Regions from separate parts of the Homo sapiens genome. Here region 2 is linked to region 1. The links come from fine-mapping of genetic effects on gene expression. A gene starts in region 1. The other region holds a variant in brackets. All regions are shown on one strand. Distances are from middle to middle.

What was found.
Region 2: its variant is fine-mapped to the expression of EFNA5 in whole blood (INTERVAL, PIP 0.93).

Annotation. Positions count from the first base shown.
Region 1 is chr5:107,667,752-107,676,084 of GRCh38, reverse strand. EFNA5 (ephrin A5) reads left to right here and starts at 5,148. Exons shown (of 5, transcript NM_001962.3): 1 at 5,148-5,596. The coding sequence starts at 5,472. RefSeq lists silencers at 2,185-2,264, 3,636-3,705, 5,066-5,115, 5,686-5,755 and enhancers at 2,345-2,394, 2,296-2,795, 4,536-4,675, 5,386-5,515, 5,916-5,995.
Region 2 is chr5:107,474,907-107,483,239 of GRCh38, reverse strand. All of the region lies in intron 1 of EFNA5 (ephrin A5), which reads left to right. Among named protein-coding and RNA genes, the nearest start is that of EFNA5, 190 kb to the left of the region's middle. The variant A/G (reference allele first, on the strand shown) is at 4,851.

The DNA of each region.
Region 1 (8,333 bases):
TCAAGCCCCAAAAATTAAATAAACGCATAAATTCCTATTTGTGCTTTAATTTGGGGCATATAAATTATTGCTTCAATGGCACTTGCTTTAAACCCACCAGCGCACCCAGTGGCCTATAGCTTTAAATGGAAACAGAATTGCAGATAAGCCCTTTTATCGTCCATTACCAACCTATTTTTTCAGGTCTCAGCTCCCTACAACATTGTCTTGTCAAACTCGAAGCGTTTGAACACTGTCTGCATTTTTTTGTCCCCATGTTTTTAGGTTCTTGCTGTTCTCTTTTTGTTATACGTTCACCTCCTCCTATACCTGGCAAAATACTTACATTCTAAAGGGCATTTAAAGTCGTTTAAAAGTCATTGCTTCTGTGACACTGGGCGAATTATAATAAAATTATTTTATATAATGTTGATTTGTATAAATTTAAATCACATGAATGCTTTCCTGAAGAGACAAAGTCACATTATCTAACGGTAAGTGTACAGTTAATAATATAGCTCTTCAAACTCTGTTCAAGTACAGCAGGTCCTCAACGCTGTTTGGTTGAACGTCACTTCGTCATAATGGTGATGAGAAAAAAAATCGATTCCAGGCCATGGCCACTGTCTGTGAGTAGTTTGCACATTCTCCTCATGTCTGCGTGGGTTTTCTCCGGGTACTCTGGTTTCCTCCTACAACCCACAGCTGTGCTCGCTAGGTTGTGTCTAAGCTGTGCACATATCTAAATATTCTCAGTATGCGTGAGTGTGGGTGTGAGTGTGAGTGCACCCCAGGATAGAAGGGTGTCCTGTCCAGGGTTACTTTCCTCCTTGAGCCCTGAACTCCGGCCACCTGCAATCCTGAAATGGAAAAATTGGTTACATGATCTTACTTGTTTTTATTAATCTTTCTCAAATGTATGTCTAGCTCACATTTATTTCAATGTTTAACATTAGAAGTGTTTTGGTCTTTATCTGGAAGTTTGGTGATGTTTTTGTGACCGGAGATATGCATAGGAATTTAACTCTTGTTTGTATCAAGTAGCCTATGGTGAAATTGTTTTCCTTATATATGCCACTTCGCTTAAAGTCACAATTTCCAAGAACATATCCCTGACATTAAGGACTTACTGTATCTATCATCCTGCTGACTAGTAACTTCCATACCAATAATTACTTAGGCACATAATCCCAGAGTCATTTGATTTAGGTTTATGAATTGTTTCACATAGACATTTGAGTTATGTTATGAACAGCCGCGAATTTCAACATCTTATTCCAATCTTATGAATCACTTTATGGAAGAGGACAATGTATACTTTTTTTTCTGTTTAATATGGGACTATTCAAACTTTAAATAGTAGAGATATTTAAATATAAGGACATCCATATTTTTGTGATATAATTGAATTTTCCCATTTGGTTATTGTATGTGTTTCAAACGGGAAATGAGTGGATACCATTTCTTTTTCTTCACCTTTTTTTCAGCTTTGATGCCACAGGAAGCCAGCTTGCTAGCTCCCTGTTACCTGATAGTTCCCTGACTAAAAAGACTCTTCAGTGAGGATCAGCATTTTACCCTAGACAGGAGTCGTGAATTTTCTTTTTAAAGATACACATATCTCTTAAAAGGGTCCAGAATATTTCCTGCAAAACTGTCTCTGTCATATGAGCACCTATTAGAGCCACTATAAGAAAAGCTAAGGAAACAAATCCATCTTTCCTGCAACAGAAAAAACACACACCCTAAAATGGGCCAAGAACTTGAACATCAGCAAGATTACAGACCAGGGAAAAAAGCAAATAACATTTTAACTGAAAATTTGATTTGAAAAATAAAAGCTTATCCATTGGTTCTCTCACTTCTTTCCCCACTTCTTTCTCACTGCTGGAACTTTGTGAAACATACAGATGATGGAGGAGCATTTGTGTCGACATTCTGAATTTCAATTTTTAATAATTAGGCAGATGGTTGGTTTGTGGTAAAGTCCATTATTGTACAGATTGCAATTTGTATCTAGTCACAAAATATAAGTTACTTTCCTAGGACGATTTCAGGATCTTTTCAGATAGGAAATATTACTGTAATTGAAAAACGACTTAACTTTTAGCCAAGAGCCCATAACATCCAGGTACCTCCGTGCCCCTATGAACTGTTTCTTTTCCTCTCGAGTCTTTATTGGTCATAGCCCTAGATTTCCCATCAAATTCAACCCGGCCTGAGCGGCAGGCAATGCCCCTGCTGGGTGCGGATTGCAGGCCCACCACTGGAGGGCGTCTGGACGCTTCTAAACAGCTCTGAAGCGCCTGGAAATCCCGTCTGAGGACTGGAAAGCGCAGGAGGGTGAACGTGAGATTTGATTTTATTGGGCTAATAAGTAAAAAGGAGTGCAGGCAGGTGTGGGAGCAAAAGTAAACTGCCTTTTTTCTCCTGGGGATCTGCCCTTCCCACTAAGGCAGAAAACTCCCTAGGGAACATGAGAAAAAATACCGCTGCTCCCGAGCCCGCGGACCCCTTAAGGGCGGGTCTCGGGGGCCTGTGGCCCCGCAGAGCAGGCGTCGGGCTCACTTCCTGGGCGCTGGACGACAGTGGGGACGCGTCCCGAGGCGCTGGGACAGTCTCGCTGCCAGGAGATCGCTCTTCAGTGGCGGCTGAAGACCAGGCTTGCAACCTGCCCTTGAAGTCCAGGACCGAGGGGCCTTTTCCAACAATAAAGGAACTGCTTTTCTTCCCACAGCCCCCGCCCCCGGCCCTCATTTCTTTCCGCACCGGGTTCGATAAAGGCGTTTATTCTTTGGGGAGTGGGCAGCAAATCACCCTCAAGGTTGAAATGGAAGAGGTGTGAGGTTATTTCTGAAGGGCTCGTCTGCCGCATTCATTTCCTCTCTGTGGAAGGTTCGCGCTGAATTGTAATCACTTTAAACTGTGATTTGCCTGATTTTTAAAAACGTGTTTTCAGAGCATCACTTTAAAGAAAACTTGCTTCCTGCCCAAGAATCTTTAAATCCCAAGTGGGAAGAGGAGGGCTGAAAGGCACAGGAGGGGTGCTCAGACTTCCAGATAACCCAGCGCCAGGCAGCGTGCGGCGTGGAGAGCGGGTGGAATGGACAGGAACGCGCACTCCCTGAGGCTCCGTTCCAGCCCATCCGTCACCTGCGGGGCACCAGAGACAGATGCCGGCTCTCCAGCCAAAGGGTGGGCACAGGTTCCTTTAAAATCGAAAGACCCTACTCCCAGGTAAAAAGATGTCAAATCATTCCTTAGCCCAGACGGAATTCAGCACCCAAAGGGTTACACGTGGCTGCCGGGCTCCGGCGCAGGAGAGGGCGCCTCGGCACTCCCAGTAATTCAATTAGTCAGGTTTCTAGAAGGTGGGGCGGGGGAGGGGGTAGGAGGCGTGGGGAAGGGAGATTAGGAAAACGCCTCTTTCTCGTGGAGCAAACCAATCCGGTTGGAGTAAAGAGAGAGGAAAAACCCCCAATCTGTAAGCAAACAGTAGGCCGTTCCCTGACTGGTTGCTCCAGCTATCCCCCCACCGCGCTCCCACCCTTCCCAAGTAAACTGCTTGGAAGGAGGAAAAAAAAAAAAAAAAAAAAAAAGACAGTCCACATGACCCGGGCCGCAGCGGCAGCAGCGCTGGCTGGGCGCGGGCTGGCGGCACCTCCCCCTGCTTCGTCCGGAGCTCACACCCGCGCTCGCGCCGCCCGCCCGTCCCGCGTCCCGCGCAACACGCCCGGGCGGAGCCCCATCCCCCCGCCCACGTCCACGTTCACGCGTGCGGCCTCGCGCTCTGCTGAGGCTGCTGCCACTGGGTCGCCGCCGCTGTCGGCTTTCCACGCAAGTCATTAACGAGGGGGCGTGCCCGAGGAGATTTTTTTTCCCATAAAGCATTTTTTCTCTCGCTCTCTTTTTTTCCCCCTCTTTTGCAAAACTGACTTTTACAAAACCCTTTCCACTTCTTGCCAGTCGTTTCAATTCCTCCTGGGCTGCTCGTGCTGCTGCTGCTGCACTCAAGTTTATTTATTTTCCCGCCTGGGTAGGGGTTTTAGGATTCGGTTTGTGGTTTTCACCTCTGTTGCTGCTGTGCCTAAGGAGGGAAAGAGGAGCAGCTGCGGGAGGATCGGGAAGGTTTTCTGATGTAGTCATCGGGGAGGTGCCACTCGCTCGTGCGCTTTTTTTTTTTCCTCTTTTCCCATTTCAAACTGATTGATGCATCTCTACAAGTTGCTAGGCTTGGACCCGCTGGAGTCGCAGGGACACTTCTGAGAGCTCACCCCGGGCTCTTGGCACCGCGTGTGGGGGCTCAGTCTCCCTCTCGGAAGGCGATCGGAGACTGACATCGGCCCATCCAGGAGTTGGAGGGATCCATTTGAAAGTGATTGTTTCCCCTCCCGCTCTCCAGCCGAACAGTTGGGTTGGCGTCGTCTTGCAGGTTTAGGAATCCCAGCTCTGCCAGGCCGGCTGGTCTTAACCTCTGCTCTTCATTCACTGTGGTGCACCCACACCCAGCCAAGGAAAGCACGCGCGAGAAATCCCCGAGGCTCGGCCAGCCCCCGGGGTGCCCTCTTCCGCTACCGCCGCGTTCCGACTCTGCTGGGGGACCTGCCGGAAGACGCGAAGAGCCAAACTTTTCTTTGAGGTTTTCGAGGCAAGACCGCTTCGAAAGCCGGCGCAGCTGCCGCTTAACCAGTTCCAGGACACCGACAAGGCTGGGTTGCGGCTCCGGATCCCCACCCTTCTCGGCGCACCGCCCGGTACCGCAGCACTTACGACTCCTCTGAGATTTCTGGGGGTCGCCCCGCTAAGGCACAGAGGAGGCTGAGGAAAGGGGTTCTCAGACTCCCGGGACCACAAGCGCGAAGCCCTCTATCAGCACGTCGCCCTTCTCCTGCAGTTTCCCACCGGCCGCCAAAGTAACTTGGAGCGAAGCGTGGCGCAGTGCGAGGGCCCCGGGCGGTGGCGGAGCCGTGCGTAGCCTGCTGCGCCGACGCTGAGCCGGGCCCGGCGGGCCGGTGTATGTCTCCCCGCGGCTGCGGCGCGCAACTCCCGGTGACTGTGCAGCGCGCGCCGCCGCCTGCCCCGACCCGCGCTGCAGCCGCCCGGCCCGGCGCGCACCTCCCTCTCCCGGGGTGACCGGCCTGCCGCCGCCGCCCGAGACACAGCTTGGCACCTCTTCCCCCGCCCTCGCCGCCGCCACCACACACACGCACGCTTCTCTCCATCTTGTGATTCCTTTTTCCTCCTGAACCCTCCAGTGGGGGTGCGAGTTTGTCTTTATCACCCCCCATCCCACCGCCTTCTTTTCTTCTCGCTCTCCTACCCCTCCCCAGCTTGGTGGGCGCCTCTTTCCTTTCTCGCCCACTTTCATTTTTATTTATTCATATTTATTTGGCGCCCGCTCTCTCTCTGTCCCTTTGCCTGCCTCCCTCCCTCCGGATCCCCGCTCTCTCCCCGGAGTGGCGCGTCGGGGGCTCCGCCGCTGGCCAGGCGTGATGTTGCACGTGGAGATGTTGACGCTGGTGTTTCTGGTGCTCTGGATGTGTGTGTTCAGCCAGGACCCGGGCTCCAAGGCCGTCGCCGACCGCTACGCTGTCTACTGGAACAGCAGCAACCCCAGGTAAGCCGATAACAGGCGGAGAGCCAGGGCTACCCGGGCCTCGGGGCCCTGCGGAAGGAGCGGCGGCGGGGATCGGCGCGCACCAACCGCTGGCGGCGCGCACCCTCGGAGCCTGCGTCGCCCGGGCGCTGATGGCTTGAGGCGTCGGCGGGAAGCGCTCGCGTCGCGCCCCTCTTTGTTAAGCCGCCGCGGAAAGGCCAGGTACCCCTGGGAGTCCCCGGGGCTGCCTAGACCAACTGCTTCTGCGGGGCGCCGGGAGACTCGGAAAAGGGCGGGAGCCGGGGAGTAGGGACTTCTCTGCTTCCCAGCCCCGGCATCTGGCTGGCATCCGGTTCCCGGCGCGGGGAGCCCCCAGTGTGCGCAGCCGGGAGCTCCTTCCTGGAGCGTGGGTCCGCAGGGACTGCGGAGAGAACCCGCCAAACATCCCCCAAAGTTTTTTTTTTTTTTTTTTTTTTTTTAATTTTAATTTTCCCTTCTCTTTTCCCGGTGCGCGCAGAGAGAGCGCACGGGCTGGGGGAAGTGAGGGGGGCTGGGAAGCGGAAGCTTTAGGTTTTTATTTTCCTCTTCAACTGCGAGGAAATCATTCGGCCCCTGAGTCAGTCTGGGCCCGGCGCGCCTGGCAGTGGAGAGGATTCTCCCATCTTCTCCATCCCTCCACCCACCCCAGTGGGTTCAAGGTGCCAGAAAGTTTGATCTAATGCCGGGTTACGTCATGTGTGCAGAACAAGCTGCCAGAGTTGGCCGAGCCAGGAGGTGGGAGCCCTTCGCCCGCGGCCTGGCGATGTGCTGCCGGAGGAACGCGCGCGATTACCTGGAACCGATTTGTAGGCGTCCCGAAGCCCGCCGGGTATGCGGGAGACTAGAGGTGGGCGCCGGGGGCGGTCCTAGTGCGCGTGCTGGACACCGGCCAGTCGCAGACGTCCCGTGTTTTCGGACCCTGGAAGTGGAGTGGGGAGGTTATCCAGAGTGCCCGGCGGGGTCCTCCGGGTCTGGAGCAGTTCCGAACCTTTATTGCTTCCCGGCCTGTGCACAGAAGTCGGCCCCGCTAGGCCCATACCGCACTGCTTTCTCTGGGACAGAGGCTAGCTTCCAGCTGTGTGCCGGTCTCGGTGCCCTCCTAGGTGCTATTTATTAATAGTACCGATTGCATCTAAAGTCACAGGTTTTTCACTGGGCTGGAGTGGAAGTTGGGAAGAGAGAGGCGGGAGGCCGAGGGGTTAGCCTAAGAGTTGGTGCGCGCCCCGGGCTCCAGGAGAGAGGGTATCGGTGGGCGCCTCCAGTTTTTTCTATCTCCTGCGGGCCCTCTCCGCCTGCCTCCAGCCTCCCCTCAGCATGCAGGCAAGAGAGGGATTCCCTGCTTGAATAATGTCAGCGCAGATGAAGATGGGAAGATTTCCCCACAAGCAGTCCGCCGGTTACAGAACCAGGAGGGAGTTCCCCCTATCCCGCTAGTCCAAGATAGTCTTACTCAGGTAGCCGCCCAAGTCCTAAATGAACCGCTGAACAGGAGTGGAGATATTCCTGAAAGTTTGGTTCAAAAAACAAGAGTCTCCTGGAGGTGGGTGGTGGAATGGGAAGCGATTTCTTCTTTGACATGCCACTTACCACTATTAGGAAAAGAGAAAAAGAAGCCATCCTGCCAGAGGAGAGATGCCTTTTATTAAAGCTGACAAGACAAATAGAGCAAGCTTTCCAGTTGTGATGGTGTTAAAAGCCAGTCTCATTATGTTGGTTAGTTTTTTTTCCCCGTTTGTGCTTTATTAGGCAGCATATACGAAGCAGAAATTTGTATCTCTGAACTTTAGCACCTTATTAAATAAAGCAACACTGAAATAGTTTCTTTGAATTTGGGATATCTTGCTCTCGGTTGTCTTTTCTTTCCCACACCAAGCTCCACATTGTGATCTTTTTCTCATGGCATTCATTTATTTGGATACTTGGGTGTTCCAGTCTTCCTGGGTTAAAACGGAAAGAACCAGCAACACCCCTACTTTAACCCCCCTTCTTAACCTGTCAAGCTAGTCTGAGTTAGTTTGAGGACATTTTATCTTAGGTTATCTCTGTTTTGTGCTTTTGATACTGTTGTTTGGTTTGAGATTAGCACATTGATTTTTGTCACAGGTCATGTTTTTTAATAGATCTGCCCTGCCTGCAGAAAACTCTTCTGCTCAGGATGCCATGGAGGCTTTGAACCTGCCCAGACAAAGTTAATCTGCAGAATTTTAAAATACCAAGAGTATTTCTAAATCGGTATTCTAACTTCAGGTTTGTAGAATTACCTTTCTATTTGATCATTATCAGTTTGATAATGGCCAAAAGAAAGAATGATGTACCCCTCTTAACCCCAAGAGATACAGCCCTAACACTTATTATTCTTAGGAATTTATGGACACATTTATCTTGGTATGTTATCACAGTTAAAAACTTACTTTAAAAACAATATTTTAAAAGTAGGCAGTTTTATCTCTGAAGTGTTGAATAAGATGTTGCTCTTTTGATGCATTAAGAAAAGTCAACTTGGATATAAGAGGCCACATGCCAAATAAGTATTTTAAAAATAAAAACTAACAGTTTTCCACAAACAATAGTAAGAAAATATTTCAGAAAATTTCCACGGGTTTAGTAAATTTTATAAATTCACTGTTGTGCAATTCCTTTTCCTGTATGTTATTTCATAAAGTAAGCTAGCCATGCTTTGTGTCTTTATATAGAACCTATCTGTTAAAATTTTGCTAAA
Region 2 (8,333 bases), 190 kb after region 1:
TATATCCCCTCTCCCCAGGGGAAAAAAACAACAACAACATAGTTTGATGTCTAAATGAAGTAATCTCTGGAAAGAAAAGGGAGATTATATTTGTTAAACTGTATAAAAAAATCAGAAGATAATATGGCTTTGTTCACACTATTACATAAAGAAGATTAAAGACGAGGAACAAGCTGCTTAAACACTGTAAACTAATTAGTTCTACGAATTGTTTTCCCGAGGTTCATGAGATATGAAACATTGGCACCAGTGCGTGAAATACACTCTGCCTCAGTGCTCTTTTCAATTTATTTTTCTGTTAGTGTCATATGTATGTGTGTGTGTGTGTATGTGTATATATGTATGTATATATATATATATATATATATAGAGAGAGAGAGAGAGAGAGAGAGAGAGAGAGAGAGAGACAGAGACAGAGAGAGAGACAGAGAGAGAGAGAGAGAGCAGCCAAAAAGAAAGAGGTTACAGAGGGAGACCAAAGCCTGTGGGATGATTGAGGCTGACATTTTGTCACTTTAAGCCTGGTGCAGGGAGGGTCCTTCTCTAATACCCTGTATAAATACCAGCTTAATTTTCTGCCATCACAGGCTACATTGCGCAAATGATATCACGACAAGGCCCAGAGGAATTCCTGATGCTGCTCAGAGCACTCTGGCAACTCCCAGTGCAGCTAGGTCCAATCCAGCAGATGCGCCCTTAATTTGTTTCCCAAGATCTGGGTCTTATCTGAGAATAGGTGAGAAGGACTTGGAGCAAGAGTGGGGCCATGTGTCTGACAGACTTCTCATTCTCTAGTTTAAACAAGAACTATTTCCTTGTCTTAAAACAGACTATTTTCTAGATGGAGGACCAAGAAATCAGGTTTTTAGTCTTAAATAACAGATAAGTATATTTGCCTAATTTAAACAAAAATAGCATTTTTTTTTTTTTTGAGACAAGATCAACTCATTTTGTCACCCAGGCTGGAGTACAGTGGCACGACCTCGGCTCACTGCAACCTCTGTCTCCCAGGCTTAAGTGATTTTCCCACCTCAACCTCTCCAATAACTGGGACCACAGGCGCATGCTACCACACCTGGCTAATTTTTTGTATTTTTAGTAAGGGTTTCCCTATGTTGCCCAGGCTGGTCTTAAACTCCTGACCTCAAGTGATCCACCTGCCTCAGCATCCCAAAGTGCTGGGATTATAGGCATGAGCCACTACGCCCAGCCAGCATTTATTTTTATGTAGCACATTTTATCTTGTTCAGAAATATGTCTAACTTAGAAGTGTATGATTACACAAGACAGTGTTTGTTTTCTAATGTTTAAAGCTGTATTGTAATGAGACCTTATTGTAACCCTGACTCTCTATCATCCCTTTTCCATTTCTTTTCTTTTTTTTTTTTTTGAGATGGAGTCTCGCTCTACCACCCAGGCTGCAGTGCAATGGGGTGATCTCAGCTCACTGCAACCTCTGCCTCCCGGGTTCAAGTGATTCTCCTACTTCAGCATCCTGAGTAGCAGGGATTACAGGTGTGTGCCACCACACCCAACTAATTTGTGTTATCTTTAGCAGAGACACGGTTTCACCATGTTGGCCAGGCTGGTCTCTAACTCTGACCTTGTGATCCACCCACCTTGGCCTCCGAAAGTGCTGGGATTACAGGCATGAGCCACCATACCTGGCATTCTTTTCAGTTTCTTTTCCTGCATTTATTGTTCAAAAACAGAGGACATCCTCACTGCCAACCATCAGCATTCCCAGATCTCCTGGTCAGAATGAATCACTACTTTCTCTGTATTCTCAGAGAACTATGTATCAAAATACCATCCTTTATTTCATTTTAATAACAAACTTCTCAAAGGCACACTTGCTGTGATCTCCTCCTGCTGGATCCTGGCCCAGTGCGATGGAGAAGGCCATCTCAACAGTCACAGAAATGTCAAATCGGTTAAGTTCAGTTCTCATCCAGCCAGATTGTTTCCCCAACTCACTCCTGTATTCAGTGTTGTAGCCTCTCTTCTCTCTTCTTGAAACTCTCCTGAATACAGGAGAACCGAGGGTTTTTCTCATTTGCAGTTGACACTTCTCAGTCTGTATTTCTGGCTTTTGCCTGTCAGCAGGAGAGTCTAACTTTACCCTGTTGCTTGCTGCACACCTCTTAGTTTGTTTTGTTCACTCTTGTACCTCTGGATCCTAGAACAGTGCCTGCTATGTAATAGGAGCTCAGTAAATTTATGCTGAATGTCCCCTGCCAGCTCCTCAGGCTCCACAAGTCAGTGACCACATCTATTTCTCTTGTCTACCTAACATACTTCTTATTTATTCTGTCATATAAAGCTGTCTCTTTGTTCAGACCTGTTATTTCCAAGTTCTCCTTCTGCTCATTTCTAGGCAGTCACCCACCCTTTGAGACCTGTTTGTCCCCATTGCTCGTTCCTTCCACTTGCCTTCACTCCCAGTACAAGGCCTTTGGACAAGCCCTCATTTTGTCTTTCTGGGACCGCTGACTGCAAGAGTCTTGTATCTGTTTTCCCTGGCTTCTGTGTATCCCCAGCCCTGCTCATGGAGAGCTCTGTGAAGCAGTCTTTAAGGCTTTATTTGCTTTTTATACACTTAAGAAAGGAAGCCAGGTATTCACGTAATTGGTGTATTGGATACCTCCCCTCTCCACTAGAATGCTCCTGAGGACAGTGCCTGTGTCTTTAGTCTTGATCCATATAGTGCCTAGGCCAGCGCTTTACGTATAGCCTGGCGCATTAACATTTTTAGGAACTTGAACTCTACCCTTTTTTACACTCTACCAGATATTATAGTTGATGCTATTTCTTGTGCCAGTTAATAAACAATTTCTTAGAAGCAGAGAGCATCTTTGATACATCTTTGTACCCCTTCACAGGGCAAGAAGTTGTAGGTAGATACAAAATACAGTTGAATTTAATTTTAAATAAAAGTAATGACTATTGAGTGGATAAAAGTGTATACTGTTTTAGCAATACATTGATTTATGGAAAAATTGAATGTGAGTATTAGTATATATTTCATTAAGCATTCATATTAAAATAGTAATCTGTTGGCTTTTCCCATTTTAACTAGAGCTTTGTGAATATGAAGCATATTGGTGGGGCACTTGGGACATGGAAATATGTATTATTCTTATTTTCTCATGACTTGTTTTTACTTATATAAGCAGGTACTTAGAGGTTTTAGACATCACATTGTAGAATTAAATCAGTATGATTTCAATTGAGTTTTGGTATTTAATCTTTCTTTTTGAAAAAGGGTAATTTCGGAGAGTACGAGTATTGTACTCAGAATCTTCTTTCCTTTTTTAGTTTTTTAAAATATACTGGTGTGCATTTTTTCCATTACTTTAAGATAGTGTAGCAAATTAAGACCATGAGCTCTGGAGCCAGAGTCTGAGACTCAGTTTGTCAGTGTGATGGGACCAGTAATGATTCTTTTTCATCAGGATGTTGTGAAGACTTGAGATAATACCTGGAAAGCTCTTAGCAAAATGCCTGTCACACACTCATTCAACCCCTGGTTAGGTAATATATTATTCTTTTGTTTTAATTGGAATTTGCATAGGGAGGGAGTTGTGTATTCAGTGGGGAAAAACCTCTGAATGAAAGTCTCATGGACTTTCTGGTGCCTTCTTGTTCATGAACACCAGTGGCAATGAGTGGCTCCCTAGAAAACTTCCATGTCTCGAGTAACCTCAAAACCCACAGCGACAGTAAATCACTTGTTGGCCTGAATAAGGATAGCTATAATTTAGGTTGTTTTTTTTTTTTAAATGTGTTTTCATTTATTGAGGTCAGTGCATTTGTGTCAAACAATTGAAACCTGACAAGAAAAATCAAGGGTAGCCTGGGCACTGCTCAATTATTACTCTGATCAGATTTTAATTAGCACCATATGTAAAAGGAAGTGCTATTTTTATTATCCATTACCATGCACTTGCTTACATATTTACCCCTGGGGTTAGAAGTGTTTCATTAATTATTTTTGTTGGCAACTAAGACAGTATTTTGACTTCTGAATTGAAAATTGCCAACTTGTTTAAACACGAATACCCATCATAAGAAATGAACAGTGCTGCTTACCAAGTGTGAACAAATCTCTACAAACTAAAGTAATTTATGGTTAAGATAAGGTCATTAGCCTTAATTTTTATTCATAATGTCATTCCAGACTCTGTCATTTACAGATTATTTTTTAATCTAAATTAAAATTACTTTCTTAAATTGAGCCCTTTCAATCAGTATGAATGGTTAACATGTCTTTGCATCTCTTTTGGTATAGTATACTTTCCTGATCAACAGGTTAGCAGTGCTTAATTGTATGTTTTTGGAGCAGGCTTAGAGAAGTATAAAAACTTCCATAAATAAAACGAAAAGTTTCATTTTAGTAAGCAGACTAATGAAATATGAACCTATCTAATGACAATGGTAAATAGAAGCATGAAAATAATCATTTTACAAAAATAATTAGATACTACAGGATTTCTATTGGTTCCAGAAGTAAACTCAGGTGACCTTGTCCTATTTATTAAGACCAATGAGCTCCACTTGGTACGTTTCTTCCTTTGCCCCTGCTACTTCTCCGTACTTTTTACATGCTGTCTAGAAGTTTTCAACTTTCATGCTGTATATTTTTTCCTGTCTGACTTTTATGACTTCCCCCATAAAATGTATTCGTTGTCTGAGTCTCACAAATCCTAAACTACTTAATGGCTATGGCTGCATCCATTATGCTGCACTGTGTGTTTGCGTGTGTGCTCTCCCGACATCTGTGTAGATATCTTCTGAAATTTACAAAACCTTTGTAACTAATCCCATAGGTTAACCGGAGTAGGGGCAGT[A/G]TTTGTTGTTGCTAATTACACAGTGGAAGCCTTTGGGAAATAGGCCCTTTGTTAATGATAAATTTGAGCAAGCAACTAAACATTCCTGAATAATGCTGAGAATATTACTCGCCTAGGTCTTTATGACTATGGATCTCTTGCCTGCCTCCTCTTTCTCCGTAGAAGTCTGGCCACTGTGCCTGATATGCATATTAATTGCTGGATCAGGAGGAGAAGCAGGGAGCTTCCTTTGGCAACAGGGTGTAACACAAACAGCTGAGTAATGAGGTACATGTGGATTATTAGGTATGACATAATGAGTAGCATTTCTATCATGGCATTATATATCTGTCAGGGTTTTTGGTCAGGCTTTTTCCTTCCTAGGGTTTAAAAACCCTGCTCATGTATTTCGGTGGTTATCACTAAAAATGGCCAGAAATCCCACTGCTACCAATCAGTTATGCTACCTCTAAATATCAGCCTCTGATTGATAGCTTGTTAAAGTGAGTTTCAAAACCAAGGGGAACTCTCTTTAGAGGAGGTATGTATTTGATTTAGGGTATATTGATTTGCATAATTTAGCAAATAAAGTACTATATAGTTAAAGGTCTGGAGACATTTACTTTTACCTAACTTAAAAAAAATAATATATTGTGGCCTAGATTAGTCACATAAGAGCCACCCTGTAAAAAGGAAACAGTGCAGGTAGAAGTTAGTCAAGAGAACACAATAGCCACACCTTGAGAAACCTTTCACCTGTGGCTTAGTTATTACTATCAGGTTACCCAAAAGAAAGAAGGGTTATATAGAGAAATAAAAAAGATTTATAACATGTATCCCCAAAAGACACCTGAAAAATAAGAGAATAGGATAAATGTAATTGCCAGAGATCCTTTTACAGTTATAAATTAATGTAGACAATTTTCTAGAGCAGTAATACCTCATGTAAGAAAGCCCTTTGCCAATATGTATTTTCTGCTTGTTTTAAATCACATATGCGACTTTGGTTCTAGATTTGTACCTTTAAACAGTCCAGAAAGATAAGAGTTTCTGCAGATATTATTCTATTGATTGCTTAATTCAAAAGATTATAAATTACTTCATCTGTTTTAGTGGAAGAGAAAGTCTTACATAGGTACATAAATATCTATATGTTAATATTATGATTAGTATCTCTTATCTACACATTGACCTATTCCTTATGTTTCTCCGTAGCTTCTTACCAAGACATTTTTTTTCTCTCTTGATAAGCCAGTAACCTCCCTTTTGAAACTGTGTGATGTTTCTCTTTTTGTTTTGGTTACTAGGAGGCTCAGCTGGCTTTCGTGTTGAGTTGCCACACAGCCTTTCCTGTTCATTGTCACAGACCCAGCAGCACCTAGCACATAGTGATACAAATGCTCAGCAAATAGACACTAAATCAGCAAATGTGTGACTTGAAATAGTTTTTCATTATGACTGATTTCCTGTCCACTTTATGTCTGGCTTTTTTGTTTTTAAGCTATATAAGGTGTAATGATTTCATTCTGTCTGATTCTGATTTGTGAACCACATCAAATCATTTCATCAAGGAGTCAGGGTATAGTATAACCTGAAAGGAATATGCCTCTGTTTTATACACTGTGACAACACAGTTTGGATGTTCCTGTGAGAGAGAGAGAGAGAGAGAGAGAGAAAGAGAAAAAATAAACATTTTAAGGGCAGCTAAATGGACTAAGAATAAAGCATTTCTGTAGGGACTTCAAATCAGAGAGTCCTGATACATAAAATTACAGGTATTGGACTTCATAGAAAGCTAATGAAATGTTTCTCCCCAAATTCTGTCAGATATCCCTATTGAACTGGTCATTTTCATTTGTTTTATATTTAATGAAACCAGAGGGAGAAACAGCAGGAATAGAAGGGTCTGTTTTGAAACTCTAAACAAGCCACCTGATGATTTTGTTTATCACTTGAACAGCTCTGGGTTCTTGTTTTGAAAATACAGATGTGTAAAGGTTTACATAGTTCCATTCTAAGTATAATATACTCTATTTTGCTCTCAAGAATATAGTTCTTGACTGGGCACAGTGGCTCACTCCTGTAATCCCAGCACTTTGGGAGGCTGAGGTGGGTGGATCACCTGAGGTCAGGAGTTCAAGACCAGCCTGGCCAACATTGTGAAACCGAATCTCTACTAAAAACACAAAAAATTAGCTGGGCGTGGTGGCAGGTGCCTGTAACCCCAGCTACTCGGGAGGCTGAGGCAGGAGAATTGCTTGAACTTGGGAGGCGGAGGTTGCAGTGAGCCGAGATCGCGCCATTACACTCCAGCCTGAGCAACAAGAGCAAGACTCTGTCTCAAAAAAAAAAAATATATATATAGTTTAAAAACTCTCAAGCCACCTTGGTATCTTCCATCTCATGTTTTATAGATGTTCAAACTGTACCATTTCAAACAGGTGCCGTGCTGTGAAAAACATGAACACAGTTTGAAATTCACTCTTGTAAAATATTTTGATATTAGCATTTTTAAAGGATCTGGGAAGTGTTGATATTCATTAACAACATCTCATTGCTCCAGAAACAGTTCAGCCTGGGTATTTTGAGGCTGAAGTCATGTCATCTCAGGTAGAACAACACAAAGGGCTTGCACTTTGGGGTAGTTCTCGTGAGAAATATGTAATCAGATTGTGGATACCCTAGACAAATCTTCTGTCTTAAGATGTATAAGTCTTATGCAGGGTAAGAATGTTGCTGACATAGTCCTTGAACAGCCTTCAAAATTATACTGGCTTTTCAGGCTCTGTTCCCCTTTAGCAATGCAGCAGATTGAAATAACTTCTGAAGCACTTTGAAAATATTGTGCTACTGAAAGCCTTAGAATCTCTTGACATTTTTCTCCCAGGATCCTCACCAGATCCTTTGACGTGGACAGTGGTGGCATTTTGTTTCTCTTGAGTTTCTTGAAAAGTTCATATAAACCACCATTCTCTCCCAAAACCTTTTGCAGTTTTCTGTGCTACATTTTCATAGGACATTACTGAACACTACAAACCATCTGCCGTTTCACACTTTGCTAGCTGAGGTCAGTGATACTGATAGCTGGGTAAGTGTGAAGTATGTGAAATGATTAGCCATCTCACAAGGGTGGGGTTGCACCAGTACCTGTTTGAAAAGCTCTTGTATGTTAATCCACAAAGACAAATTAATTATTAACATTTAATATCGTATAACTTACAGGGAGAAAAAAGGATTGTTTATTCACTGTGCTACTGTGACACCTTTGTTCAACAGGGAGCGTGTTACAAATGCCACAAGTAGTAACTTGAGGATACATCCTTTAACAGCTTATTAGTAGTCATTTCCCAGTCAAGTAAACATCTTAGCTCAGAAGTTTGTTTAGTAAAGCACAGTCATATTGTGGAAGCAGGAAGTAACCTCACATTGCACAAACACTGTCTTAACAGTGGGACAGAAACTTTTCTAATGACAATGATTTTTATGTAAATTGTATAGGCCTTG